7 linked regions of the Homo sapiens genome follow. The protein of the gene in region 6 purifies or fractionates together with the protein of the main gene of each other region. This does not show direct contact. Each region holds a gene or a part of one and is shown on either strand. Other genes may lie near its edges.

The links.
Region 1: the proteins of PRMT3 (region 6) and RO60 fractionate together in Homo sapiens (co-fractionation; one large-scale study listed by BioGRID). This does not show direct contact.
Region 2: the proteins of PRMT3 (region 6) and SEPTIN14 purify together in Homo sapiens (affinity purification with mass spectrometry, with the first as the bait; one large-scale study listed by BioGRID). This does not show direct contact.
Region 3: the proteins of PRMT3 (region 6) and PEAK1 purify together in Homo sapiens (affinity purification with mass spectrometry, with the first as the bait; one large-scale study listed by BioGRID). This does not show direct contact.
Region 4: the proteins of PRMT3 (region 6) and HACD3 purify together in Homo sapiens (affinity purification with mass spectrometry, with the first as the bait; one large-scale study listed by BioGRID). This does not show direct contact.
Region 5: the proteins of PRMT3 (region 6) and PARP8 purify together in Homo sapiens (affinity purification with mass spectrometry; one large-scale study listed by BioGRID and IntAct). This does not show direct contact.
Region 7: the proteins of PRMT3 (region 6) and HIBADH purify together in Homo sapiens (affinity purification with mass spectrometry, with the first as the bait; one large-scale study listed by BioGRID). This does not show direct contact.

What each region holds. Positions count from the first base shown.
Region 1 is NC_000001.11:193,058,325-193,062,411, forward strand, and holds the start of RO60 (RNA-binding protein RO60), read left to right. Parts: upstream 1-1,287; 5' UTR 1,288-1,452; exon of another isoform or gene 1,453-1,538; coding exon of another isoform or gene 1,539-1,674; exon of another isoform or gene 1,675-4,002; intron 4,003-4,087. Other genes in the region: UCHL5 (ubiquitin carboxyl-terminal hydrolase isozyme L5), read right to left, coding at 1,539-1,674. UniProt on the Homo sapiens protein: RNA-binding protein that binds to misfolded non-coding RNAs, pre-5S rRNA, and several small cytoplasmic RNA molecules known as Y RNAs.
Region 2 is NC_000007.14:55,859,953-55,864,145, reverse strand, and holds the start of SEPTIN14 (septin-14), read left to right. Parts: upstream 1-1,393; 5' UTR 1,394-1,458; intron 1,459-2,134; 5' UTR 2,135-2,149; coding exon 2,150-2,203; intron 2,204-4,193. UniProt on the Homo sapiens protein: Filament-forming cytoskeletal GTPase. Involved in the migration of cortical neurons and the formation of neuron leading processes during embryonic development.
Region 3 is NC_000015.10:77,179,105-77,182,604, forward strand, and holds part of PEAK1 (inactive tyrosine-protein kinase PEAK1), read right to left. Parts: exon of another isoform or gene 3,299-3,500; intron 2,937-3,298; 5' UTR 2,823-2,936; coding exon 1-2,822. UniProt on the Homo sapiens protein: Probable catalytically inactive kinase. Scaffolding protein that regulates the cytoskeleton to control cell spreading and migration by modulating focal adhesion dynamics. Acts as a scaffold for mediating EGFR signaling.
Region 4 is NC_000015.10:65,557,963-65,561,462, forward strand, and holds part of HACD3 (very-long-chain (3R)-3-hydroxyacyl-CoA dehydratase 3), read left to right. Parts: intron 1-717; coding exon 718-769; intron 770-3,500. UniProt on the Homo sapiens protein: Catalyzes the third of the four reactions of the long-chain fatty acids elongation cycle. This endoplasmic reticulum-bound enzymatic process, allows the addition of two carbons to the chain of long- and very long-chain fatty acids/VLCFAs per cycle.
Region 5 is NC_000005.10:50,665,224-50,669,436, forward strand, and holds the start of PARP8 (protein mono-ADP-ribosyltransferase PARP8), read left to right. Parts: upstream 1-1,413; 5' UTR 1,414-1,662; coding exon of another isoform or gene 1,663-1,774; 5' UTR 1,775-1,861; coding exon of another isoform or gene 1,862-1,872; coding exon 1,873-1,963; intron 1,964-2,190; exon of another isoform or gene 2,191-2,350; coding exon of another isoform or gene 2,351-2,378; intron 2,379-2,847; coding exon 2,848-2,902; intron 2,903-4,213. UniProt on the Homo sapiens protein: Mono-ADP-ribosyltransferase that mediates mono-ADP-ribosylation of target proteins.
Region 6 is NC_000011.10:20,488,716-20,492,215, reverse strand, and holds part of PRMT3 (protein arginine N-methyltransferase 3), read right to left. Parts: intron 1-3,500. UniProt on the Homo sapiens protein: Protein-arginine N-methyltransferase that catalyzes both the monomethylation and asymmetric dimethylation of the guanidino nitrogens of arginine residues in target proteins, and therefore falls into the group of type I methyltransferases.
Region 7 is NC_000007.14:27,540,884-27,544,383, reverse strand, and holds part of HIBADH (3-hydroxyisobutyrate dehydrogenase, mitochondrial isoform 1 precursor), read left to right. Parts: intron 1-1,283; coding exon 1,284-1,417; intron 1,418-3,500.

The sequences.
Region 1 (4,087 bases), on a different chromosome or scaffold from region 6:
GTGTACAACAGGCAATATCTACATCAACGTTTAATTGTTAATCCCGCGTAAAAGTTTTAACATCGTAGAGTCAATAACACTTGGGAAATAGATAAAAACGTACTGTCCAAAGAAGAGACTAAGAACAAGATAAATAGGGAAGGATAAAAAGTAAAATGTGTTGATTATTTAGGACGAAAGGCACTAAATACAGCCAGAGAGAAACTGTGAGGAAAGCATGTGGCCTCTAGTCTAGAACACTAGCTCAAGAAAACTCACTTCACCGGAAGCCAGAAATGAGCAGAGAGCGGAACCAGTGAAGTGGCCTTTCAGGCCCACGCAGTCAGCGTGTGTGGACGTCCCGAAGAGCTATTCACACATTCAAGGCGTTCTGCTTTGAATAACCAGAATCTCGAGTTCCTGGGCGGCTTGAGCCGCAGACACCTCACCCTTGAGAAGGCGCACCCTAGGGTGGCTTCTGCAGGACTAATGGCCTGAGCAATGCACTTGACCTCACCAGCCCGGGATAAGGTGCGCGCCGCAGAGAAGGGGCAGTGCAAAGGGCAATACGTGCTTAAGAGCTTGGGGAGCGAGGGCCCTCAAGTCAATTACAGGATTTGGGTGCCAGGTCCTGAGGATGCAGCAGGCACAAGACTGACACGATCCTTGCCCTCGTGGTGTGGCTCTACAAATTACTGTGGAAACGCGACTGTCTCGAGCTGAGGAGAGGGCAGAACATCTACATTTCCCCCACCCGGACTCCAGGTTCCTGAAGTCACCTCTCCAGACGCGGGGCGGCGGTGGCCGCAGGGAACCACTCCATGCCCAGCTTGGGCCTCCTCCCGTGACCCCAGGCCCAGGACGGTCCCCTTGGTTCTCACCGAATCCTTTAATGAGCTCGGTGAAGACCCCGGGGTCGCTTTCCATGAGGCACCACTCCCCGGCATTGCCCGTCATGGCCCTGGCCACACACCGCCCCGATCCACCTCTCGCTCTCAGCTGCCCCCCGCACCAGCTGCCGCCGGCCACAGATCTCAGCAAACCCGCCGCCGAGCTCGTCAACCACACGTCACCCCGCCTACTTCCCGACAGCCTCCGGGCGCCGTCACCTGCAGCGCGACTGAGCGCGGGAGGACGCTCTAGCCACCCTAGAGACATCGAAACTCTTCCCAGGCCTTGCAGCACCCGTAGCGGATTCGGAAGGGCTGGGGCCTGAGAAGAAAGGGCGGTGATTCACAGCGCCGAGGAGGCAACATCCGGGATCCTCGCCCCTCTGGGGCGGAGGCGGGGCAAAAGAAGAGGGGCAGGACTCGTTCCCGGGAACCGAACCTGGAATCCCCGGCGGCAGTGGGGCTGTTGCTGTTGCTGTGGCTGTCGCTGCCCGTCAGGCTGCCTTCTTTTGTCGTTTCCCAGCGCTGCGCAGGACTTCTCCTGGCGGCGCTGCGGATCCAGGGGGTCGGCTGCCAGGTACAGGTGAGGACATTGCGGGAGGCCGGCTGGGAGCCTTTTGTGCGGCCCCAGGGACGCGCAAATTCTGACCAGTCCTCCATGTCTCTCACCCGCATCCCAGGGGTTGAGGCTGGGCAAACGCCGCGAAACTATCGCTCTTCCCCGTCCCGCTTCCGCGCCTGTCCACCCTGGGTAACGGAACCAGCATCGCGGTAGGGACATCCTCGCTAGGCCCGGCCGGACCATTCCTCAGGGTGGGCCCTTTCCGAAGCCGGGACCGCTCCTGCTTGTCGGCATCGCTCCCCACAGGCCGACGTCGAGAGGGCCTGCTTTACTCCTCCTCTTTCTCCTCCTTCTCCCGCGGCTTCTGCGCGGAGAGGCGTCGCCCGGGATCTGGGTTTTGGAAGAAGGATCTTTGTGGGAAGACAGGGTGAATTTATCACAGAGGAATAACGAGGGAGAGGAGAAAGGTTTGTCCATGGGGCTGCTAGACTAGTGGAAGGGGATGCGGTGCGTCAAGGGAAAATTAGGTTGAAAACAAATGTCGTGTATTAATCTAAAAACATTTGGAATGGTTCTAAAACTGGATGATGAGTTAAACCAAATATTTACTAAATATTTACTAAATTGCCCTCATTCAGCAGGCTCTTATAGAATACTATAGTGTTAAGATTAAAGTTTTTAAGAGTATATTGAAGTCGTTAAGTGTATATTTACTCCTTAAAAGCTACATATTCCAAGAAAGACCTTTGGCTTCCAGAAAAAAAAAATGTTTTAGTGGGTAAAACTCTGACTCCTTCCTTCTCAAATAGGTGACTTGTGCCCTGGAGTTAGGGAGCCTTGTGCTACAGATTATGTGAAGCCATGAAATAAACGTGGTAAATTTTATTGAGGGAAGCAACAGAGCAGCTTTTGTATTAAAAGGAGCCTGAGTACGCTATGGGGTAGAAGCCAAAATTTGTATGAAGTGTTGGTTTAAAAAAAATTTTTTTTGTAACTTTCTTGAAGTTTATCTCCGGAAACTCTGCCCTCAACTTGGAGACTAGGAGGATTCTGTACAGTATATTTCCTTGAGATACTTTATTGGAAAAGTTTAAGAGGCACAGAGTCCAGAATGATTGGCATCAGAGCCCAAAGTAGTTTGTGGTATTTTTTTTAATCTGTAATATTGCTATGAACTTGAAAATGTTTTCTGTGCAAAATACATCAAAACTAAAATGTACTTGATACCCAACTTAATTAACATGGTACCTATTGTAGAAAGACCAAACTGAAAATTTAGCCTTTGGCACAATCTAGAAGTAAGCAGAGAAGGGGGTTAAGATGCCTTTCATTATGTTAACGTTTAATCCTGAGAGTTTACATAAAAAGCCAGATTTCTGGGTCTTTGAGAAAAATGAGATCTGGCAACTACTAGTTCCATACCACGTGGCAACCAGTTGGCAGCTCCCCTCAGACTAGCATGCTGTCATTTTTGCCACAGTTCCTTCCTCATCAGTTTTTATAGCATCACATTGATCAGTGGATTCAGATACCTGTATCATGGGTAAACAAACCTCTATCATGGGCCCAATTTTCTATTGTTGTTTCTTTACATTTGTCATGCACTCTCATAGATATGTCAGCTTTGACTTCATTTAAAAAGGAATAATCTGCAAATGTGTTTGACTTCTTGAGATGAAAGGCAGCATTTTCAAATAAATTATAAAGAGACTTTGGAAGATATTGAGATGTGTAAATTCAAGAAAAATGTAGGATTCCTTGGAAATAACACATTAGTACTGATAAAAGATACTGTATATGCTGTAGTTCTGATGATTGTGAAACAAGTGCTATTATATAATGTGTGTTACTAGCATTTCCTGATTTTGCATTCTAAATTAAATTTAAAAGTAGAGAAATGGACATTGTATAAAATATCCACAACCAATTTAATATGCGGCCATGCTTGGCCGGGCACCGTGGCTCACGCCTGTAATCCCAGCACTTTGGGAGGCCCAGGCGGGTGGATCACGAGGTCAGGAGTTCAAGACCAGCCTGGCCAACATGGTGAAACCCCGTCTCTACTAAACATACAAAAAATTAGCCGGGTGCGGTGGCAGGCGCCTGTAATCCCAGCTACTCAGGAGGCTGAGGCAGGAGAATCGCTTGAACTCGGAGGGCGGAGGTTACAGTGAGTGGAGATCGCGCCACTACACTCCAGCCTGGGTGACAGAGTGAGAGTCTGTCTCAAAAAAAAAAAAAAAAGTGTCCATGCTTTTAATATTATAGTATTGTAATATTTAACTTCTCAAGAACTTAATTTATAGAGATTTAATACAACATTAGTTGTATGGTGTGTTTTAAGAGCACTAGATAGATAGGTCAGGCCCATCCAAAGAATTAACTATATCTTTTTGTTGTTAATCTGGATTTACAACACTTGATTATCCAGGAATGGATTAACTGATGACCAGGTTCTGACCTCACTCACTGCCCAATTGCCTTCTAAACCACTGATAATGGAGCTTAAGCTTTGAGGCAGGAGATGATGGCAGTTGGAGAAAGAAGAAATTAAGTTGCTGTATATGTCTTGTGGGTATCTCAAATTGCTTTTAAAAGTCAAATATAAAAATTGTAGGGCTAAATATAATTTTTGTGTAATCAATTGTATTGGTGC
Region 2 (4,193 bases), on a different chromosome or scaffold from region 6:
CAAAAACAAAAAACAAAAAACCCTAGTATTATTAGAAAAAAATTGAACCCATAGGCCCCCCGCAAAAGAATCTCAGGAATCCTCAGGGCCCAGTGATCGTACTTTGAAAAACTTCTGCTCTAGACTTATGTGAAAGAAATAAACCCCTCTTTGTTTAAGACACTTAATTAGGCTTTTAAATACAAGATAAGTTGCATCTCTAGTTCTCAAATAATTTTTGGCAGATTTGCCAAAAATTCAGTCATTATACAGAGATAGAGACTCTTGAATTTTGTAGTAGTTTACTTCAAATTACTACAGTATTTCAAAAACAATATTTATTGTTGATTTAAATAAACATTGTTATTTATTTTTTGAGTCAGAGTCTTGTTCTGTCTCCCAGGCTGGAATGCAGTGGCGGGATCTTGGCTCACTGCAACCTCCACCTTCTGGGTTCAAGCAATTCTCGTGCCTCAGCCTCCTGAGTTGCTGGGATTACAGGCCTGCACCGCTATGCCCAGCTAAGTTTTGTATTTTTAGTAGAGATGGGATTTTGCCATGTTGGCCAGTCTGGTCTGAAACTCTTGGCCTCAAGTAATCCGCCTGCCTCGGCCTCCCAAAGTGCTGGGATTATAGGTGTTAGCCACTGTGCCTGGCCAAACATTGTTGACTTAAATCAACAATGTTTGTTGCTGATTTCCATTAAAGGCTAGAAATTACTGGCCAGGTGCGGTGGCTCACACCTGTAATCCCAGCACTTTGGGAGGCTGAGGCAGGTGGATCACAAGGTCAGGAGATTGAGACTATCCTGGCTAACACAGTGAAACCTCATCTTTACTAAAAATACAAAAAATTAGCTGGGCGTGGTGGCGGGTGCCTGTAGTCCCAGCTACTAGGGAGGCTGAGGCAGGAGAATGGTGTGAACCCAGGAGGTAGAGCAAAAAAAAAAAAAGGCTCAAAATTACTGCAATGTCCACCATTAAGTTTCTGATAAATAAATAAATTTTAAAAACCTTCATACATACTGGTCTAGATTAAACCACACCACAAAACAGAACTCTATCTATATCAGAAAACATTGCTTAATTTTAGGGAAAATGATATACGTTTGTATACTAAAGTGCAATAATCCTCAGGATAGAGCAAGTGAAGAGATTATGGCACAGAACCATTCTTTGATTCTGTTTGCTTCTCAAATATTTCAAATACTTGCTTTATAAATATATAATATTTCCTTTTGAAACATGTCTCATATTCTTAGTATCTCTGTGCTGTGTTCAAAAGTAGGGTAGCATGGCCTTCTCAGGCAGTTCTGCTTGGAGATGAGCACAGCACGCTCTCTTGTACCTCTCCTCCCTGTTCCCAACTGTTACAAACACAGTGAATATTTATTTGGTCCACAACTGGGGACAGTAGAAAGGACACCAGCTTGGAATCAGTTCGGACCTGTGTCTGCTGCACAGCTGAATCCCTGGGAAAGTAAGTTATTTAATCTTTCTGAGTCTGAATTTTTTCACCTGGCATATGGCAATGAAAATACATACATCTCAGATCTACTATGAGGACTAACAGAGGTAAATAAAGCACATAAACCCTTAGCACAATGCTAGCTGTATAATAGATGCTTCATAAATGAGAATTATCATTATTTTAGTTCAGTGTCTAAAGAACTTGTTTAGGTTTTTTAAGGTCTGCTTTCACAATTCTCTTTCAATGGGTAAATTCAAATGCCTAAGCCTCCTCTGGTATGCTACTCTGGAAAGTTAAGTGCTTGTGAGTGTCTTGTTTTGTTTTTTTTTTAACCATTTTTTAAAGCAAAATTTTCTACTTTCCTTTCTTACGACCATGGAGTCATTTAAAGAAGAAGAATGCTCTTATCCTCTTGATTTCCAAAGGGAGTTTAACTTTAAGATGCTTTTTGTGTGCTTATGGTTAAATGTATTACTCTACATTATAAGTTGAATATTACATATTATTCATCATGTAGAAGCCCATCTAGCAAGACAGCCACAGTTTAAAACAGATGAATAGTGTGAACTAAAAACTAAAGCTTGCAAAAATACCCATATTATGCCCCCTAATTATCTAAATTATATAGTAAGAATATAGCCTTTGTAAGAAATTTTTAAAAATGTTTATTTTTTTAAATTTCCAGCTCTTTTAGTGTAGCATGGCAGAAAGAACAATGGCTATGCCCACACAAATACCTGCTGATGGAGATACAGTTAAGTATATCTTTCAAATATAACTCTGCATTTTGTACTTCAATAAGATTATATAGCCTAAAAATATTGACTTGGAAAACTGATGTAGGCATAGAAGATAAAGTCTTGTTTGTTATGTTTGGGCATGAATTAGCTTTTATACTAATTGGAGTTTTAAGTATCAATGGTGATTTAGATAATTGTTACATGTTTTTTGAGTCCGATGACCTTGTTAGCAGTGCAACAGACTATTTCTACTTAACACCAAAGAAATTCAAAGTAAAACTTCTGAATCGCCCAATAAATGAGAAGAACAGTGCTGTTTTGATGGATATATTTGCAGAATGTATGCACTGACAATAAATAATTTTTTAATGAAGTTATTTTAGCAAATGGTTGGATGGCTGCTTGCTGATTGCTTTACTGAGTGTGAGGTTAGAGCAAGTTTTTTTTTTTTTTTTGAGACTGAGTCTGGCTCTGTTGCTCAGGCTGGAGTGCAGTGGCGTGATCTCAGCTCACTGCAACCTCTGCCTCCTGGGTTCAAGTGATTCTCCTGCCTCAGCCTCCCAAGTAGCTGGGATTACAGGCACCTGCCTTCATGCCTGGCTAACTTTTGGATTTTTTTTTAGTAGAAACAGGGTTTCACCATGTGGGCCAGGCTGGTCTCGAACTCCTGACCTCAGGTGATCTACCCGCCTCAGTCTCCCAAAGTATTGGGATTATAGGCATGAGCCACTGCGCCTGGCCTGTCATTGCTTTTCATGAATAACCATCAGAGGAATTTCTCAGGGACTGAAACATTGGCCTATGCTCATTCCATTTTATCTTTGGGCTTTCTTGTTTAACAAATCATGGTTAATACTCCTTTGTTCACATGACTCTAAAACATAAAATTTTAGGATTAGAAGGGATCCCAAAAGCCAATTAGTCAAACATTATGCAAATGCTGATATGCAAATGCTAGCAACAAATCTTTAGCAAGTGTCTTAGTCTGTTTGGGCAGCTATAACAAAATACCTCAGACTTGGTAATTTATATACAATAGAAATGCATTGTTCACAGTTCTAGAGGATGGGAAGTCCAAGATCAAAGCACCAGCAGGTTTGGTGTCAGGTGGGGGCTTACTCTCTGCTTCAAAAATGGCTTCTAGCTGTGTCCTCACATGGCAGGAGAAGCAAACAGTGTCCCTCAAGCTTCTGTTATAAAAGCACTAGTCCTATTCATGTGGGTGGAGCCATATGACCTAATTACCTCTCCAAGGACCCCTCTGTTTTTTAAAAAATTTAAATGATATGTAATATTAATACATATTGATGGGGTACATGTGATATTTTATTATATGCATAGAATACATAATAATCAAGTCAGGGTGCTTCATGTATCTATTACCTGGAATATTTATTATTTCTATGTTTTGGGAACATTTCAAATCCCCTCTTTTAGCTATTTTGAAATATACAATACATTGTTATAAACTATAGTCTCCCTACTCTGCTATAGAACATCAGAACTTATTTCTTCTGCCTAACTGAATGTTTGAACCCACCAGCCAACCTCTGTTCATCCCCCCACTACTCACACACCCTTCCCAGCCTCTGGTAGCTATCATTCTACTCTACCTCTATGAGGTCAACTTTTTAAGCTGATGCATATGAGTGACATATTTGTCTTTCTGTGTCTGACTTACTTCACTTAACATAATGACCTCTAGTTCCATCCATGTTAATGCAAATGACAGGTTTTCATTTTTTTGTGTGGCCAAATTGTATTTTTTTTTTTTTTTGAGATGGAGTTTCACTCTTGTTGCCCAGGCTGGAGTGCAATGGCATGATCTCAGCTCACTGCAACCTCTGCCTCCCAGGTTCAATTGATTCTCCTGCCGCAGCCTCCCAAGTAGCTGGGATTACAGGCATGCGCCACCATGCCTGGATAATTTTGTATTTTTAGTAGAGATGGGGTTTCAACATATTGGCCAGGTTGGTTTCAAACTCCTGACCTCTGGTGATCCAC
Region 3 (3,500 bases), on a different chromosome or scaffold from region 6:
TCCTCCTCATCTGTTTTCCGACGGCGGAAGAAGCTTTTAAATGATATCCAGCGCTTAGGTTTTGCATCAGCTGCCCGCCTGCTGCCTTCAGAGTGCAAAACTGATTCAGCTTCTGTTGACCTGGTAGGGCTGGTTGGCTTGGTCCAGTTGGTGAAATGCCTCTGCAAAAGGTTACCTGCATGGTAAGGAGAAGAAGTAGAGCGTGGCGGGGGAAAGGGAGCTGGTGGCTCACTTTGGGGGCTAGTCACTAATTTGGAGGGAGAGGGGGTGACTGGCTTTATGGATGGGTCTTTCTGTACTTTGGTGGTAGGACTGTCTGTGGTCTGAGGTGCTTCAGCCTCACCACTAGGCTGAGATGTAAAGAGAGATTTGGGCCGGACTGGCGTACTCTTAGGTGTGCTCTTAGCAACATCAGCATCTGGAGGAATGGCATAAAGCTCTTCCACACTGCAAGCTTTAGGGCCAGATTGAGGTGTTTCTGGAGGAGACTGTGGGGGTTGGATTGAAGCCACAATCTGAGAAAGCACTGTGCTTGCTTTCTCTCTGGTGCTGCTGCTGCCCACCATCTGAGACTCCTGAGTGCCTTCTATTTTGGCCACAGGCTCTTGAGTGGCTCTCTGGATCTTTGCTGGGGAGCTGTGGCTGGAACTATAGCTTCTCTGTGGTGAAGACTGACCTCTGTTGAGACAGTTGTTAAACTCTTGAACCTTCTGAGCCACTGAGCCCCTTTTATGCTCTGTGCTGTTTGAAAACCCTTTAGTTTGAAGACAGTCAGTGGTTTTGCTAGTGGTGTTATCAGGCACTTTGCTTTCTGTTTCTATTTCTTCATAAGTATGGCTTATTACACTTGTGGTTTTTTCCTTCACTGAGAGTTCTCCACTTGTTCCCAGAAAACTTTTGTAGATAGCTAGATTGTCATATGCATTTGGATTGATAACAATGGGAACTTTGATAGCATTTTTGGAACTCCGAGCATAAGTTGGCTCGTCATGAATGATAATTGGAAAAGGTGGCATACCAGCATTGTTATAACTATTAAATTTAATTTCAGACAAATTAGGTGACTTAACAGGGATGGTTTTGGAGGAAATGTTTGTAGCTGTGGGTGATGTAGGTGCTGATTTGTGACAGTTTTTCCTTGGAGGAACATTTGGTCCAGTTCCACTAGTAATTAGTTCTACTTTAGGTATCTTTTGTCGTGGACTGGTGCTAGAAGTCCATACTTCTTGGTATCGAATTGCACTGGATTTTTGGAAATGGGCACTTATTTGTCCTGGTGTCAATGAAGATGATGTAACTGGAGAGTTTGGAGTAGAGGATGAGCTTTTTGTCTTGGGGCTGTTAACAGGGCCCTCGAGGTGCTCACTGGCCATGGCTGCTGACACATCCACGACAGTATATGGCTTGCACAATGGCTGTTCCAGGTTCACAACTCGGTAAGGTTTTGCTTGCTCTTCTGTGGGGACAAGGTTTATGGTTACTGCTTGCCCAGCAACATCTGTAGAGGCTTTACTTTCTTCCTTCTCAGTTTGTACAGCAATCTTGCCATCTTTCTCTTCTAATCGGAGAGCAAGGACTGCTTTGTGGGTCTCTGGAACTTTTATTGAGCTTTTGGAAGCCTGTGATGAATCTTTATCCTGATTATTACTAGAGGGACTTTCATAATTGGGCTCAATTTCCTTCATGTCCTTAGAATCTCCTGGGTTACCAGGAGATAATCCCCCATTACAAATCTTCTGGGATAAACTACTGGCTGTCTCAGAACGTGATTCTTCTGTTAAAGAAGAATCTGGTGATGTGGAGTCAGATGACACCATGCTCTGAATGCTTCCTTGTCCATAAGAGACCACAGAATTTTCCTCATAACCATTCAGGATTTCATCATAGCTGTCATCATAGTCCACAGCACAGATTCTCTGCAGAGACTTGTTTCGCAGGGGGATGGTATTCCATTTTTTGTCCACAAAGAATCGAACAGGAGACAATGTGTTTGCTCTGAAGTTGGCAAAGCGAGGTTGCCCTCTCATGCGAATCTCCATGGCCAACAGCTCTTCATCACTCTCATCCCAACTCTCGTGCTCCTCCTCCATGTTACTGAAAAGTACATCCTCTTCACTCTCCTCGCCACTGGAAAACTCTGGGTAACAGAACCGGCCCCCTTCATTACTAATCACTTCTGTGCTCCCACTCAGAATAACATGCTTGCCCTGAGTTTCCTTTATCCCACCTATCATGCAACTTGGTGGAAGCTTTCTTTCCAATGATCGTTTATAGCAATCATTTATTCTTCCCAAGAATGTTTCTCTGGAGTTTGTTTCATTTCCTCTTATCTGAGGGGCAGTATCCAAGCCTGCTATCTCCTTTAACACTTCAGTTAGTCCATTATTGTTATCTGACATCTTCTTTGCACTATCATTATTGCCATAAGGCTTAGGAACATGGCTAATTCCTTCATCATCTTCATTATTATTGTTAAGTGGTTTCTGACTCAAGGCAGCTCTGTTTCGGTTCCACCCTATGATGACAGGTTTGTTCTCACAGTGTTCTTGGATGCTAAGCTCACCACATATACTTTGCCCATCTGCCACTATCATAGTGGGCTTCACAGCTATAGTGGGTTTTTTAGCCACAGGAGGCCGGAAATTGCCCGTGTTCCTGATGCGGTGGTTGTTACTGTGATTGGCATTAGTTTTCACATTGCCATGGGTGATGGGTGCCTTCTCAGGGTCTGGGGGAAGCTGGTGCAAACTTTTAGGTTTAAAGCAATTCTTGCATTCACCAGGTTTCCAAACATGTTCAGTAAAGGTGTTACAAGCAGACATTTTTAAAAATAGAACTTCACAGACAATGCTTTTCTTTCAGTGCATGACAAAACTTTCATCTGTTAGTTTTCACTTCCCCTATGTGTTACAGCAGCTCTTCTAAGAATGATCAATCTGTGGAGGGGAAAAGAAGACAAAAAATCTGAATGAAAAAGGCACTATGAGACTTACCATTATTAGTGACTTGAAAAAACTGACTCCATTCCTAAACTTTTCCTTAAATTAAAAGACTGAGAGCTAAACTAATTTGTGTACTTTGTAATTTCCCTTTAGCCAATCAGCATTTGGAAAGTGAGCTTTTTAACTATAATTTTATGCACTCTTATCTATCCATACATAATCTTCAGCTTGATGTCTCTGTTGCAATGATTCTGTGACCTTCCCTCCCAGAAATGCCTTTGATACCACTCCTTCTGTTATCCACCAATTTCTCTAACACTTCCCAGCCCATTATAGATTCCTCTTCTTCCACCTACCCTTGAATGTTTTAGACATTTCGTAGACTCCTCAAACTCAATGCATTGAAAATGAAGCTTCGGGGCTGGGTGCAGTGGCTCATGCCTGTAATCTCAGCATGTTGGGAGGCAGGCCAAGGTGGGAAGATCCCTTGAGCCCAGGAGTTCAAGACCAGCCTGGCTAACATGATAAAATCCCATCTCTAAAAAAAATATAAAAATT
Region 4 (3,500 bases), on a different chromosome or scaffold from region 6:
TTCCTTACTTTCTGGCAGTATAAGCTGCTCCAGGCTTATCTTGCATGTATGTTTCCTGCTCCAGCCCTGGAACAGCCATTTCTTCAAGCATCTCTGTTCTTATTGTGGAATAGCATTGGAAACCAAGATCTGGGTGCCGGGTATGCTCATTGCTACCAGGTTGCCATTGCCTTTAAGTTCTCTTCACTGACAGAACAAGAAAATATATGTTTGGATAGTAACCCATGCATACACATACACCTGTAAATATTTCTGTATGGATCCATCTGTATCTCTGTTAAGCTAAACGTGAGTTCATAGTGATGTTGGAAACATGATCTTAGCTTCTGGAAAAATTATACTAAAATTCTAGAAGTCTTGAAAAATAAAATAGCAGTCTACCTCCTGCCTTAAACTTCTGTTTTATTTCTCTGACTGCGACAGATCTTCTGGATGTCCTTTCCAGCTTTAAGATTCCAAGGTCACTTGTCAGTTTGGAAGCCAGCTCACTGGGTTAATTTTGTGAACAATGGATGGGCACCTGTGATGCTAATGCTGCTTAGTAAGCAGGAGTCAGGCGTTTGGCCCTATGACCTAGAATATTCTCCCAATGATGCACTGACCCCAACTGGAGGAGTTGGCTTTGAGGGAGTCAGATTACTCAGCCAGCATATGGACTTTTGCAAGCATCTGGGAATTCTAACTTGTGTTCTTGGAAAACTTTTGTCTAAATTCTAGGAAGAAGAGCGCCTAAATAAACTCCGACTGGAAAGCGAAGGCTCTCCTGAAAGTAAGTTGTGCTGCTGCCATGGTAGTTACCAGTTAACTTGTGCTAGTGTTGGAAGTATGGATAATTGTGATGTGGCAGGAGAGCTAATGATTTCATCCCGGTGAGCTGTGTGGGTGAGTTTATGAAAAAGCTTTTAGGTCCAGTGCTTAAGGTCTGCACTACCCACGTCAGAATCCTTACCTTTAATGTGTCCTTTGTGTTTTGGTTGTTATTTCATGAGTACACCAAGGCTAGTGTAGCAGAATGAAAGAACTCCTGGACTGGCCTCATGGCAGATGGCAACCAAATCCTGCAGAGACTTGTGGAAATGATTGCATGGATCCAAGGCTACACTCCTTCAGCCTGGTGTTTTTCTCCCAGCTGAAATCTCAAAGGCTGTATGATACATAAGTGTGGTTGTCAGCCTGAAAGATGGAGAGTATTCTGTGTAGTCCTGCTATTCATTAACCTTTAACAAATCAATTTCTGTTTCCGTCTAACCACTTTAAGCAGGAAGCTCTGTAAGTGTATTATCTTCTGGGTGATGTAGTTAGATTAAATTCAGCAGCTATCTGTTAAAGTCATGCTGTGTGGCAAGCATTGTGCTGGGCCCTTGACTAAGAGCCAGAGGGATCCATCGTAGCGCCTATACTCAAAAGGGCTTACATTCTTAGTGAGGGAACTGCAGGTGTATGTAAAACTACCTCTGAAAAGCAGAATGAAATAAGTCCTTCTTACTTGTTCTAAGTTGAAATTTTTCAAATTTTAGTGGTACTTATCTAGCATGCCATAAATAAGGGAGGGGAAAGTTTTGGAGCAGTAGTTTTCAAACTGTGTTCCATGGTGCCCCAGGGGGTTCCCAGAGATGCTTTGGAGGAGTAGATCACACAAACAGGTCTACCTCAGTCAGAGCAGCTCTCTTTTGAGTGTTATGTGTTGGCATTCCGAATAAGGTTTCTTTTGAGAAGGAATTTTAAAAAATATTTGAATAGCGACTACCTTAGGGGAATATTCTTTCAGGAAAGCCGAGGAGGGGAGAGGTTCAGTGGAGGCAAAGAATAACAACATAAAAAAGCCACTTTGAGATTTAAATTAATGTTTTGGTGTCTTAAAGGGATAAACTTCAAAAATAGATAAAAATTCTAATATATGGATTTTTTGGGTGTTAGGTAAAGCTTTAACTGTTTTACCTAAATTCATAAAGTTTTCTGAACAAGGAAGTTCTTTATGGTGGGGAAGTGTAATAGATTTTTGTAGTTTTGAAGAAATAACTTTTAATTAGCTAAATGTTGCTAGAAGTCTGACATTTTTTGGAGTCTTAGGATAAGGCTGTGTTGTTTTTTTTTTTTTGAGATGGGGTCTTGCTATGCTGTCCAGGCTGATCTTAAGATACTGGGCTCAAGTGATCCTTCTACCTCAGCCTCCCAAGTAGCTGGGATTACAGGCATATGCCACTGTGCCTGGCTTAGGCTGCTTTTGATTGACCACATTATTAAATGTGATTATTTGAGGACCAACCAGATGTCTTTGCAGAATATCTGTAGCCTAGGAATAAATATGTAGCAGCAAAATCTGAACACCATAGATCTCCTCTTAAGAACTGTCCTTTTCTTTACCCTACTCCTTTGACTCAACAATGACTCTGTCAAAGCCTCTTGTTTCTTCCTTTACTCTGTAATTGGCTGTATCTTCATGAATCTTAGGCTGCAGATAAAATTAATGTCCCTTATTTTCCTGCATGTTGGTTTGAAATTGTCCTGCTTTGGTTATGTCCTCAGTCTGCCCATCTTTCAAAGCCCAGATCAGGCCAAGTATGATGGCTCATGCCTCTAATCCCAGCACTTTGGGAGACTGAGGCGGGAGGATCTTTTAGGCCAGGAGTTCGAGATCAGACTGGGCAACGTAGCAAGACTGTGTTTCTACAAAACATAATGGAATATAAAATTAGCAAGGTGTGGTGGCACAGACCTGTAGAACTAACTACTTGGGCGGTGAGGTGGGAGGATGGGTTGACTCCAGGAGGTCAGGGCTGCAGAGAGCTATGGTCCCACCACTGCATTCTAACCTGGGAACAGAGTGAGACCCTATCTCAAAAAAAAAAAAAAAAAAGCCCGGATTAGATACCAGCTTTATCCATGTAGACTAGCTTGATGCCTACTTCTCCAGCCTAATGTCGTTTTTTCACCTTGAAAGTTTCACAAGACATTACTTGTTACTCCCCACCTGGTATTACAGTTTTTAGATTGTAAGCTCTGAGGGCAGCCTTGAACTACCTTTGTATCCCAGTAGTTCTTCTCACAGTACCTTGCACATTGTAGGTATTCAGTTAATGCTTGGTTGAGTGAATATATAACCAAATATCAGGGTTGTTTTTTTCATTTACTGTATCTGTCTCTTTGAGCTAGTTTGACCTCAGTGACCTTAAAGAAATTCCAGAAAAGAAGAAACTATGGATTATATTAAGATGACTGGAGGGCCAGGCACGGTGGCTCATGCCTGTAATCCCAGCACTTTGGGAGGCCAAGGTGGGCAGATCACCTGAGGTTAGGAGTTTAAGACCACCCTGGCCAACATGATGAAACCCTGTCTCTGCTAAAATACAAAAATTAGCCGGGCGTGGTGGCGGAAGCCTGTAATCTCAGCTACTCGGGAGGCTGAGGCAGGAGAATTGCTTGAACCTGGGAGGTGGAGCGTGCAGTGAGCCGAGATTGTGCCACTGCACTCCAGCCTGGGTGACAGAGCAAGACTCTGT
Region 5 (4,213 bases), on a different chromosome or scaffold from region 6:
CACAAAGCAACATATCCAGGAAGGACAAAGGGCTTGAACCTGTCCTACCCTAAACAGGAAGCATTTCAGGAGAGGACTGAGCAGGAGATATAGACTGTTGTGACTGTGGCTTTACTACATCAAAGGCTGCAGTGGATCTCAATAATGCAGAATGTTTCCTTTTGTAACTCATAGTGAATATGACTGGACAAGGAAATTATTTTGTAATTTGTTTCCTGAAAGATAAAGGAGTTAGAACATAGGATCTTTCATTGATTCTACAGAATCTTAAGACTCCTTCAGGGATGGCAGTCATTCCTACCGTGCTGAACATCATGTTGTCACGGTCAGAATCAGAACTAAATTGATTAAGGGTCTGAAACAGTTTGGCAACTCTTGGGCACTTATGCTGATAAGAAAAGTGATGAGACAGGGTAATGAAAAGAGGCTGCAAGAAATGACCATTCGTGCATTCAGCCAACATTTAGGCCACCCTCCTGTATTCCAGGCACTGTACATGGCACTGAGTATGCAAAGCAAAAGGAGTCATGGTCTACTGGCGGGAGCCTTCTCAGTGGAGAAAAGATCAACAAGAAAAGTGCCTGCTGGAGACCTCTCCTAGGGCATAAACCAATATAGAGGTGGGGCAGCTACGTCAGCCTGGGGTGTCCTTAGGCAGAACAGAAAGTGAGAATCAGAGCAGTATCTCATTTCTGAACACCTGGATTGTAGCTTTCCCTTGACTGTCAAAGGAGGTGGTTTTAAAAATCAAGCCAAACAGGTTTCCATCTTTTAGGAAGACCCTGGAACGTGCCAGTTGATTCTGACCATTTCTCATGAACAGAAACACCTAGGAAGGGAGAACTGGTGAGTTTCAAGAGGAGGAAGTCCCTCAAAAGGGGCTGTGTTTCGTAAACGGCGCCCCAAAAGGGCTGAACTACTTCGATCTGGAGGAAAAAGACTCAGGCACTGAGGGAAGGGGAGGGTGCACGTCTGGAGTAATTTTAAGGCCTTTTCCGTGTTATGTGATGTGGCAATAAGGAAAGATTTGTTCGTTTTATTATTTTTTTAATTTTTAAAGATTTTCTTTTCCCCCCTTTTCCCCCTCCCAGCCACTCCGGTTTGGGTTTGCCACAAGACTATAATTCCTTTAGAAAGTGGAGTCGAATTCATAAAAGTGATGGGGGGAGGGGCGCGGAGAGGGAAGGCTGGGAGCCCCAGGGAGTCTTCACGACCGCTCAGCTCCCGGCGCGAGTGGAGGTCGGTGTGGGGAGAAGCGGCTCCCGCCCGGGATGGCTAATACTCTGCGAGCCCCGGCAGCCCGCGGCCGGCGGGGTGACTAGGCGGCGGGCGCGGAGGGTCTGCGGCGGGCGGGCGGCGCTGCAGCAGCCTGGGCACGGCTGCCGCCGCCCGCGGGCGCGAGTGTGCGCGGGTGTGGAAGGCCGGCGTGCGAGCCGTGAGGGGTGTGCGCGCGTGAGCCGGAGCGGGGCTCGCCCCTCGCCGGCGCCCGCCGCCCAGCCGGTGATTGCTCTCTGGCTGTCCCCGGCACCTCGGCCCCCACGGCCGTTGGTCCGGGCGGGTGAGGGAGAAAGTGAGACTTGGTGTCATCACCATCCATTGTCAGAAGGGGAGGAAATTGGAATCCAGCAGCGGCGAGCAGCAGCTGGGCGGTCACATCTGGGAATGCAAAGCCGACCTCCCCCTCCTCCTCCTCCTCCCCCTCCTCCTCCTCCTCTTCTCTCACCCAGGATCACTTCCGAAACCACTTCGCCTTCAGCCCCTGCCTCGGCCAGAGGTTTCATTTTTAACTGAATATTTACGAAAGCTGGAAGCGTGCGAGGGGGGTGGGGTGGGGTGGAAATAGCGGCTGCTTCTTTTCCAGGGATTTATTTAATGGGGATGTGTTCAAGGCAAGAGCGAATTCAGAAGGATATCGACGTCGTGATCCAGAAGTCCAGAGCTGAGAAGGACTGCCTGTTTGCAGGTGAGTTCTTGCTTTTCCAGAACCTCGGACCCAGCGCCCCCTTCCCAGTTTTCTGACCGCGACGTCTGTGGCTGGGGGTGGGGTGGAGGGTTGCACGTCCCCATTCTGGGGTTCATTTGGCAACAGCTGCTGCAACGAGCGCGGGAGCCAAAAGGGGGAGGGGGCGCCAGCCTCTCCCCTTCCCCTCCCCCACCGCCAAGTCTGAGGCAGCCACCAGCTTTGAGGGCAGAGCCCGCGTGGCCGGAGCGGGGGTCTAGGCGAAGGGGCAGTGCGTGGTATTTCCAGCCCCGCGTAGTGCCCGAAGCCTCCAAGCACGCTTCCTGGGTTCCAGCAGCGGCGGCAGAGCGGGGTTGGTTTGCGCAATGGGCTGAGCGGCGGCGGCCGGGAATGGAGCCTGCTGCGCTGCGCTGCGCTTGTAAGCTGCGCCCGGCGCCGAGGACCCCCGGGGGGCAGCGCTCGGCCCATCTCCGGCCCCTTCGGCTCCCTCTAGTCCCCTCCGACTGGCAAAGAGAAGGGATTCCTCGGATTCCCAAGGCACCCAGCGCCCCTGCCTGGGGGTCGCCTTTCGTCCATTTTGCTCCCCCGGGATTTTGCTTTCGCTACCGCGAGCCCGGCTGAGGCTGCTTCCGGCCTCCCCTATCGGGAAATTCCCGCTGTTGCCATGGCACCCGGCACTTGTTGCGGGGGGCGGCCTCCCGCTGCACCCAGTCGGGGGCGCGCCGCATCCCCTCGGACGCGGCGCAGAGGGACCTCGCCGCCCTCTAGCCCTTGCCTTCTGCCCGGCCAGGCCTCCCCTGACACCACCGAATGTGGGGCTCAAGTCCTGATCGGGGTTAAAACAAATCCACTCCAGGGGTAGCTTTTGACGGGACTTTCTGTTTCAGATTTCAGATACTCTGACTCCACCTTTACTTTTACCTACGTTGGCGGCCCCAGAAGGTATTTATGTGTATAGAGTTGCTTCATTTCCTGTTCACACTCTTGTGTTTCCTTTGTTCTTAGCGTGTTCCGTGTTCGGGTATTTTGGTTGCTTGTTTGTTTGATTATTGTGGCTTTTCTTTACCTGCTACCCAAGCCTGACGTCCCTCGGTTTTAAATAGCAGGAGGAGGGGAATCAATGTTTGATTCAGGTGTTTCGAGGACCACGCCACAGGCAATGAGCAGAACTCTTCATGTTGAAACTGTTCTGCTACAGTACTAGATTGCTCTCAGGCGATTTGGGGTTGATACAGGCACGCCGGTGCAAAACTGGAATACTGGATATGAAGTGAAATGTATAAAAGACATAAAATGTCACAAAATAGTTTGATCAGAAGTGTTGATTTTCCTGGTGAGTTGGGGCTGCGTGTTTCCATGTTTTCTGAAGGTTTACATAAACATGCAGCCTGCCAATTCTCTGTACATTTTTTTTTCAATGAGTGGTATTTCGGTTTTCACGTATAGAAATTGGAGACTTATATGTAGCTGGAGTGGATGACTTCTTTCTTTTGGGGGAAGAATGAGAGATGCACATTTCGTTAGTAAATTGTGAACAACTTGAAACAAACCCAAATCCAATTTTGAATTTAGGAAGTAGAGTTAAAATGAAAGGTAGCCATTCAAATACTATGCCTTGCTACCTTCACTTGTTGAGTTAGGATTTTCTTCCTTTTAGCCCTTTAGGGACACAGTAGTTTAAAAGAGCAGTAGCCACATATGAGAAGTACCAGATTTAGCTTAGAGGGAATTCCTTAGACCAGCCCTGCTGTTAGGACTTGACATTCAATATTGTTTGATCACATTCCAAAATATATCTTAGCTAATGGAAACATTTATAAACATATAAATTGCAAAAGAAGCTTTCTTGTGTACATACATTTTTAAAAGCTTGAAATTGATGTGAACTTTTAAAAACACGTAGGATCTGTATTACATTATACATCTCAAAACATTTAAAGTGAATATCATTCCAGTATATGCAATATACCTAAGCCCCAGAATTAGCACATTGATTTACTAGTTGAAAATATAACAGTGAATCACCAAACTTAAGTGTATACTTTTTGGGAGAGAATGAAATTACAGTATTTCTTAATTTACTGTAATGTCATCTTTGTAATTATGAATTAATAATTCAATGAGAGGAGACTTGGTTGATTAAATTAACGCTGGTCCTACACATTATATCTAAAGGATCTTCGTATATGACTAATATCCTCTTGGATTATTTTAACAGTTAAAATATACAAAGTGGCCCATTAAAAACAGAGT
Region 6 (3,500 bases):
CTGGCCCATAGGATACAATACAATACAATATTTGATGAGCAAATGTGTTTATTATACATTCTGTTATGTTAGTTACGATAGTATATTACAGTTTGCCTTATACTGCAATTTATTTAAGAGCAAGGCATATGTATAACTCACTTCTATGCCCCTTACCCAATACAATGTTATATAGTAGGTTCTCAATAAATTTTAGCCAAATTAAAATTTTTAGTCTTCAGTCTCAAATATGGCTAGCTTTATTACATAGTCAGTATACTTTATTAAAGCATTGACTAACTGAACTTGAATGGAACTAATAATTTTTAACTCTGAAAAGCATGGAACATGTGGGACAAATATGGAGAGGAGAGAGCTAGAAAAGATCTAATTCTGTATGTAGGAAATGCAGAAGTCTCAGCCTAACCCCCAAATTACGCATTTTCAGGTGAGATCCAAACCCACACAGCAAAAGCTTAGAGCATTGAACTAAAATTTGAATCACTGCTGCAAGTCTCAGGATTAACCTCTGGATAAAACATGCATGGAAAAAAAACCGAAACCAACAAGTAAAGGCCTAGAGAACTGACGTGAGATTGGAAAAATCTGTAAAAGTCTCAGACTAATCCGTAAACTAGGTATGTGTAAGACAGCCTCAAAACAGCATAACAAAGGCTTAGAGAATGTGACTGAGACTTGGTCAACTGTCTGCTCGGACACTAAGACAGAACTTATGGTCTGATTTTAACTGGGCTTGACTGCTAACAACAAACATCAACATCCTTAAGATTTTAACAAGACACACAGTTTACACAACATAGCATGCACAACATCTAAGGTGCAATCTCAAATTACTCAACATACAAAGAATCAGGAAAATTGAACAACTCTCAGGAGAAAAGACAAGCCACCTCTGAGATAATCCAGATGCTCAAACTATCAAGCAAAACTTTAAAGCAGCAATTATAACCATGTTCCAACGGTGACAGAAAACACAATGGAATGAATCAAAAGACAGAAATTCTCAGCAGAGAAACCATAAAAAAGCACCAAATGAAAAATTTTCAATTGAAAATTATAATAACTGAAACTTCCGGGTTGAATAGCAGAATGGAGATGACAGGGAAAAAATCAGTGAATTTGAAGATTGATAGAAATTATCCAATTTGAAGAAGGGAAAAAGACAGCAATTAAAATGCATGTTATAGAACCTTGGAGACCTATAGATCTAACGTGTCATTGGTGGTCCAGATGGAAAAGAAAAAGACACTGATGGAGAAAAAAAAGTTTTAAAATTCTATATCTAGACAGAATGAATGAAGGCATTTTCAAGTCAAGGAAAAGTAAAGAAATTCATTGCCAATAGACTTCCTCTAGAAACATTTTAAAAGAAGTTCTTCAGAAGGTAAACTGGAACAACAAGAACAGAAAACCCATAGTTCTAAAACATCCTTTTGTTTTCAAAATTTTTAGTGTACCTTTTAAAATTGTTTTAAACTCATGTAACAGCCTCTCATCTTTCTGTAATTATACTTCTATAACTGTTATATTTATTGCCAGTCTTTTTTTAATCAGAATTAGAAATGCTTCTCTTCATGTATCTGAAGATGTCACAAAAGCTGCTTTTAAACCCAAATTTTCACAAAAGCTCTTATTAGCTTACTAGGATTTATTTTTCCCCACATTTTTTGGGGGGCCTCCCAAAGCACTGGGATTACAGGTGTGAGCCACCACGTCCAGCCACACATGCTTATTAATCAATCTCCAAATCTGTGTATGAATTTCAGTTAAAAATTTCCAGCCCTTAATAATATAGTGAAAGAAATACTGGGAAGTTCTGGGTAACCAAAAAATAAGTTTTAAGACAAAGAAAAATGACAGATATAGTTAACTTCAGTTGTAAGCACTGGAAAGAATCTATGACAAATATCTGAAATTGCATCTATGTGAAATGCCTCACAGTATCTTTGAGTCTTCAAGCACAGTCACATTTCTAATGAGGTTTGGTTTACAGTAATACTCAGTTCCACAGCACACATTAAACAGAAAGCAGAAGCATGAGGAGAAGTTAGGAAGGAATTCACCTAAAATTCAAACTGTGTGCAGATAATCTATCTACTCACTAGACAGCATTCGTACAGTTGAGAAAGTGGAAGATTGCTGCTCTGAAAAAAACAAAGGGAGTTTCTGGTTTTAAAATGGGTGTCTACCCTCAAACACCAACATGATCTAGAATGCCCCTTAAAGAGACAGGGTTTGTGGTGTTACCTTTTTTTCTTTTCTTTTCTGTGTGATTCTTATTTTTAAAAATTTTTATTTAATTTTAGAGATGGAGTCCCGCTATGGTGCCCAGACTGAAATCAAACTCCTGGGCTTAAGGGATCTTTCTGCCTAAGCCTCCTGAGTAGCTGGGACAACAGTTGCATGCTACTAACTCTTAATTAAAAGAGATTAAGAAAAAAAAAAACCCCTTCAATTTGAAACATAGTAATATAAAACCAAATGAATTATGATTAGTGTTTTTATTTCTGCAAAGCTATTAAATAAGGAATAATGATATAACCAAATATCAGCTGATTTAGGAATAAATGACTTATTTTGTCAGGAAAATATAAACATGCCACTATTTTCAATTACAGTTTGGCCACCTTGCTACCATCACTTTGACAGGCTATCTTAACATCTTTTAAATGTTAATTTCAATGAATATACATTATCTCTGTGGAAGTCATTCAAATATAAGAATAAACAACCATAGGAAATAATGACTAATAGGCAATGGCAACAAATAACTAACTGGAGCTACAACTTGACATATGCTCGTAAAAGATCAGAGAGGTCTGAAGGCTGACTGCAGAAGAAATTTCTCCTTTGTCTCACGTATATATCTTGTTGGGGCAATGAGAACTGCTGAGGGGGAAAAAAGCATTAAAATCTATCTGTAGGAGTTGGGTTAATCTGCAAAGGCAAGGTCACAGTTAAATAAAATTTCACTGAATTATACCACAGTCAGAAAAATTTATAACTAAAAGTTTAGTTATAAAAGTCCCTTAGAGTGAGAGAAGGGAGAATGAGTGGTAAGTAGTAAAAAAACAAAAACAATGATAGAAGAAAACAGAATGAAAGGAAACTACGTATACATAGTGAATTTCTGGGATAGCTTGATCACTCTTGATATTTTGTGAGAATCCTCGACAATTACTTTGATGCACATAGGAAAATACAAGCATGGAGCTCTGTTGTACATCTTAAATATTCCTCAGCATGTAATAGTTTCAGAACTCATCTTTTTGTGGATTTCACAAAAAGAAAACTCATGGCATTTGTAAACTGAATCATGAAAAAATCTGTTTTAAGCCATGTTTTGTTTATATGTATAAAGGTAAATGCAGTTCATTTAATATACACTCATTTGAAGAACAATGATTTGGGATAAAAAATGACTTTCTCAGGTATTTTAGTGTGATGAATATTTCTTTAAAGAGGACACATTGTGTGTATGTAATAGGATGGCAACCAAT
Region 7 (3,500 bases), on a different chromosome or scaffold from region 6:
AACATGTGGGCACTCACTCTTCCAAGATTGTTTGGCTAGCATAATGCTGACTTTTTTGGCTTTTAATAATTGCTTATGAATAGTATAAACTGTAAAATAGAAAGCTATTTGATTTGACAATAGCAAAATATTCACAATTTGAATGAAATAGGTATCTCTTCACTTGGGCTTTTAAAAAATATATAAATACTGTATTTCATTGAACACATTAAATCCAAAAGCAGGCCATTACCTGCAGCTGTCTAATGGCCAGATTTGATACATACTACAGACAATTACAGTTTCTTTGTTCTTACTGTACTGTAAAATAAGTTCTTCCACATACTTGCCTGGGAAGTTTTGAAAAATAAAGCCTAACTTGAAAATTATGAATCAAGATTTCTTTCAATATTAAAAACAGTAATAGCGCTCTTGGTTTTATTTTATAGTTAATAAAAATTTAGATGAATGAAGCTTTTCCTCTCCCTTTTAGGACAAGTCTAGATTATATTTTCTGTGCTAAATTGAAGGTTCTTTCTCCAATCATTAGAATGAATGAACATGCATTAAGCCTCTGTTAAAAGCTACTAAGGAGTAGTGAAGTCAGTGTTAAAGTTTATTTCTTCTTCTTGCTCATATCACTAAAAATAAATTGCCCAAAAGATGTATAGCAGGAAGGAAAAGAAAAATCAAATAATATTGAAAAGTACATATGAGAATAATCAGTCAAAATAAGCAAAGTTTTCCTTGCCTTAAAAAAAGAATCTACCATCTGAAATGCCTACTTGTTTAAGGAACAAAGAGCCAGGTCTCCCTCTTTGTAGATCTCACTTATAGATAGTATTTGGAGAGTGGGTGAGTGAGCAAGAACCCCGAATCCAAACGTGGGCAGCAGACCTCTCTCTGGCTGCTCCTTTGCTGATCAGGGCCCAGGTAAAACTTTTTTTTTGTATACTTTCTATAACTTAGTAGGTTTCTTAGGAGAATAATAGATGCATGGGAATAATAACATTTACATTTTAAGTTCCCTTATCTGTTAGGCCATGATTGTGCCAAAATGATTAAGGTGAGTTGAGATTGAGAGTACAACTGAATCTGTATGTCTCTCTTGGTTTGTGATTAATCTGGGTGATACTTGATTGCTGAATATTTCTGTAGAGATTTAGAGTATCTTATACATGCCTGGCATAAATACAGATTGGAGGCAGGATGTTTTTAGTTGGTTTCTCTAATTTTATTACCTGCCTAAACATTTTAAGAAATATATTCTTTTGCTTCTATCCCTTTACCCCCAAATGATTCAGGTGTAGGAGCTGCACGATCTGGGAACCTCACGTTTATGGTGGGAGGAGTTGAAGATGAATTTGCTGCTGCCCAAGAGTTGCTGGGGTGCATGGGCTCCAACGTGGTGTACTGTGGAGCTGTTGGGACTGGGCAGGTAAGATTTTTACATTAATGACCTTGACTTGATGATGTAAAATTGACTAATGTTCCTTTCTCTTTCCTGACCATATTTTTATTCTTCTTTCTTCAACCTATGGATTCTTTGCTCAGATTTTAAAACATTTATTTGGAATAAATTAGTTTTGCATCATTCCTGGTGGGCTTAAGCAGACATCAGCCAATTTACTTATTTAAAAAACTTCCATTATTGGCCAGACGTGATGGCTCATGCCTGTAATCCCAACACTTTGGGAGGCTGAGACAGGAGGATCACTCAAGCCCAGGAGTTTGACACCAGCCAGGGCAACATAGTAAGACCCCATCTCTACAAAGAACAAAAAAATTAGTCGAGTGTGGTGACACACACTTATAGTCACAGCTACTTAGGAGGCTGAGGTGGGGGGATCACCTGAGCCCAGGGGTGGGGGATTGAGGCTGCAGTGAGCCATGATAGAGCCACTGCAGTCAGCCTGGGTGATAGAGCAAGAACCTATCTCAAAAAAAAAAAAAAAAAAAAAAAAAACGGGAAAAAAAATTCATTATTAGGATCTTGACATGTCTGTCATCCCAGCAACTAGTGAAATCATCCTTAAAACTGCTCTTATTCGAAGTGCTTGTTTCTGAGTTGCTATTTTCCTCCATCTAATTTTGTAATTACAGTTGACCCTTGAACAACACAGATTTGAACTCCATGGGCCCACTTATACATCTATTTTTTTTCCATAGATATATTGAAAATTTTTTTGAAGATTTGTGACAGTTTGAAAAAACAGATGAACCACATGGCCTAGAAATATCAAAAACATTAAGAAAAAGTTAGATATGTCGTGAACGCATAAAATATATGTAGATAGATACTAGTTTATAAATATGCACAAATCTGTTATAAAGAGTTAAAATTTATCAAAGTTTACAAATATTTATAGACCATACATGGCACCATTTACAGTTGAGAGAAATGTAAAGAAATGTAAAGATGCATTAAATCATAATGGCATAAAATTAACTCTAGTAATACTGTACTACTGTAATAATTTTGTGGCCACCTGTTGCTATTGCAGTGAACTCAAGTGTTACAAGTATTGAGCATAAAATGTCATGTGACACTAATCATCTTTGTGTGAGTGGTTCATCTCTTTAGTAAATTGTGTATCATAGTAAAAATTGATCTCTTGGAATTCTCTTGTATTTTTTTATCATGTTTAGTGCAATACCATAAACCTTGAATGACACCATGGGACCCATACAAAGTGCCACTAGTGATGCTGGAAGTGCTCCTAAGAAGCTGAGAAAAGTCATGACATTACAAGAAAAAGTTGAATTGCCTGATACATACCATGGATTGAGGTCTGCGGCTGCGTTTGCCCTCCATTTCAAGATAAACAAATCCAATGTAAGGACCATTGTAAACAAAGAAAAGAATAGTCATGAACCCATCACTGCAGCTACTCCAGCAGGCTTGCACTTTTTGCAGAACATCTTTTTATCTCACATTGAAAATGCAGCTTTTATGTAGATGCAGGATTGCTGTAGAAAGGCATACTTACATCTAATATGATTCAAGAAAAATATGACAACTTAAAGCAAAAAGAAAGTGAAGGATCTAAAGCTGGAGAATTTAATGCCAGCAAAGGATGGTTTGATAATTTTAGGAAGAGGTTTGCTTAAAAAATGTCAAGAAATAGGCGAAGTAGCTTCTGCCAACCAAGAGACAGCAGACAGTTCCCAGGCGCCATTAAGAAAAAATCATTGAAGAGAAAGTATATCTGCCTGAATGAGTTTTTAATGCAGACAGAAGTGCCCTATTACGGAGAAAAAAAAAAAAAAAAGGATGCTCGAAGGACATTTATTAGGAAGAGAAGCAAGCAGCACCAGGATTTAAGGCAGGAAAGGATAGGCTAACTCTACTGTTTTGTACAAATGCAGTTGGGTTGAAAATCAGGACTGCCCTTATCTATAAAGTTGCTAACTTCTGAGGCTTTAAGTGAAAAGATAAATACCAGCTGCCTGTCTTTTGGTTGTACAGCAAGAAGGCCTGGACGATGAGAACCCTGTTTCTGGATTGTTTCCATCAATGG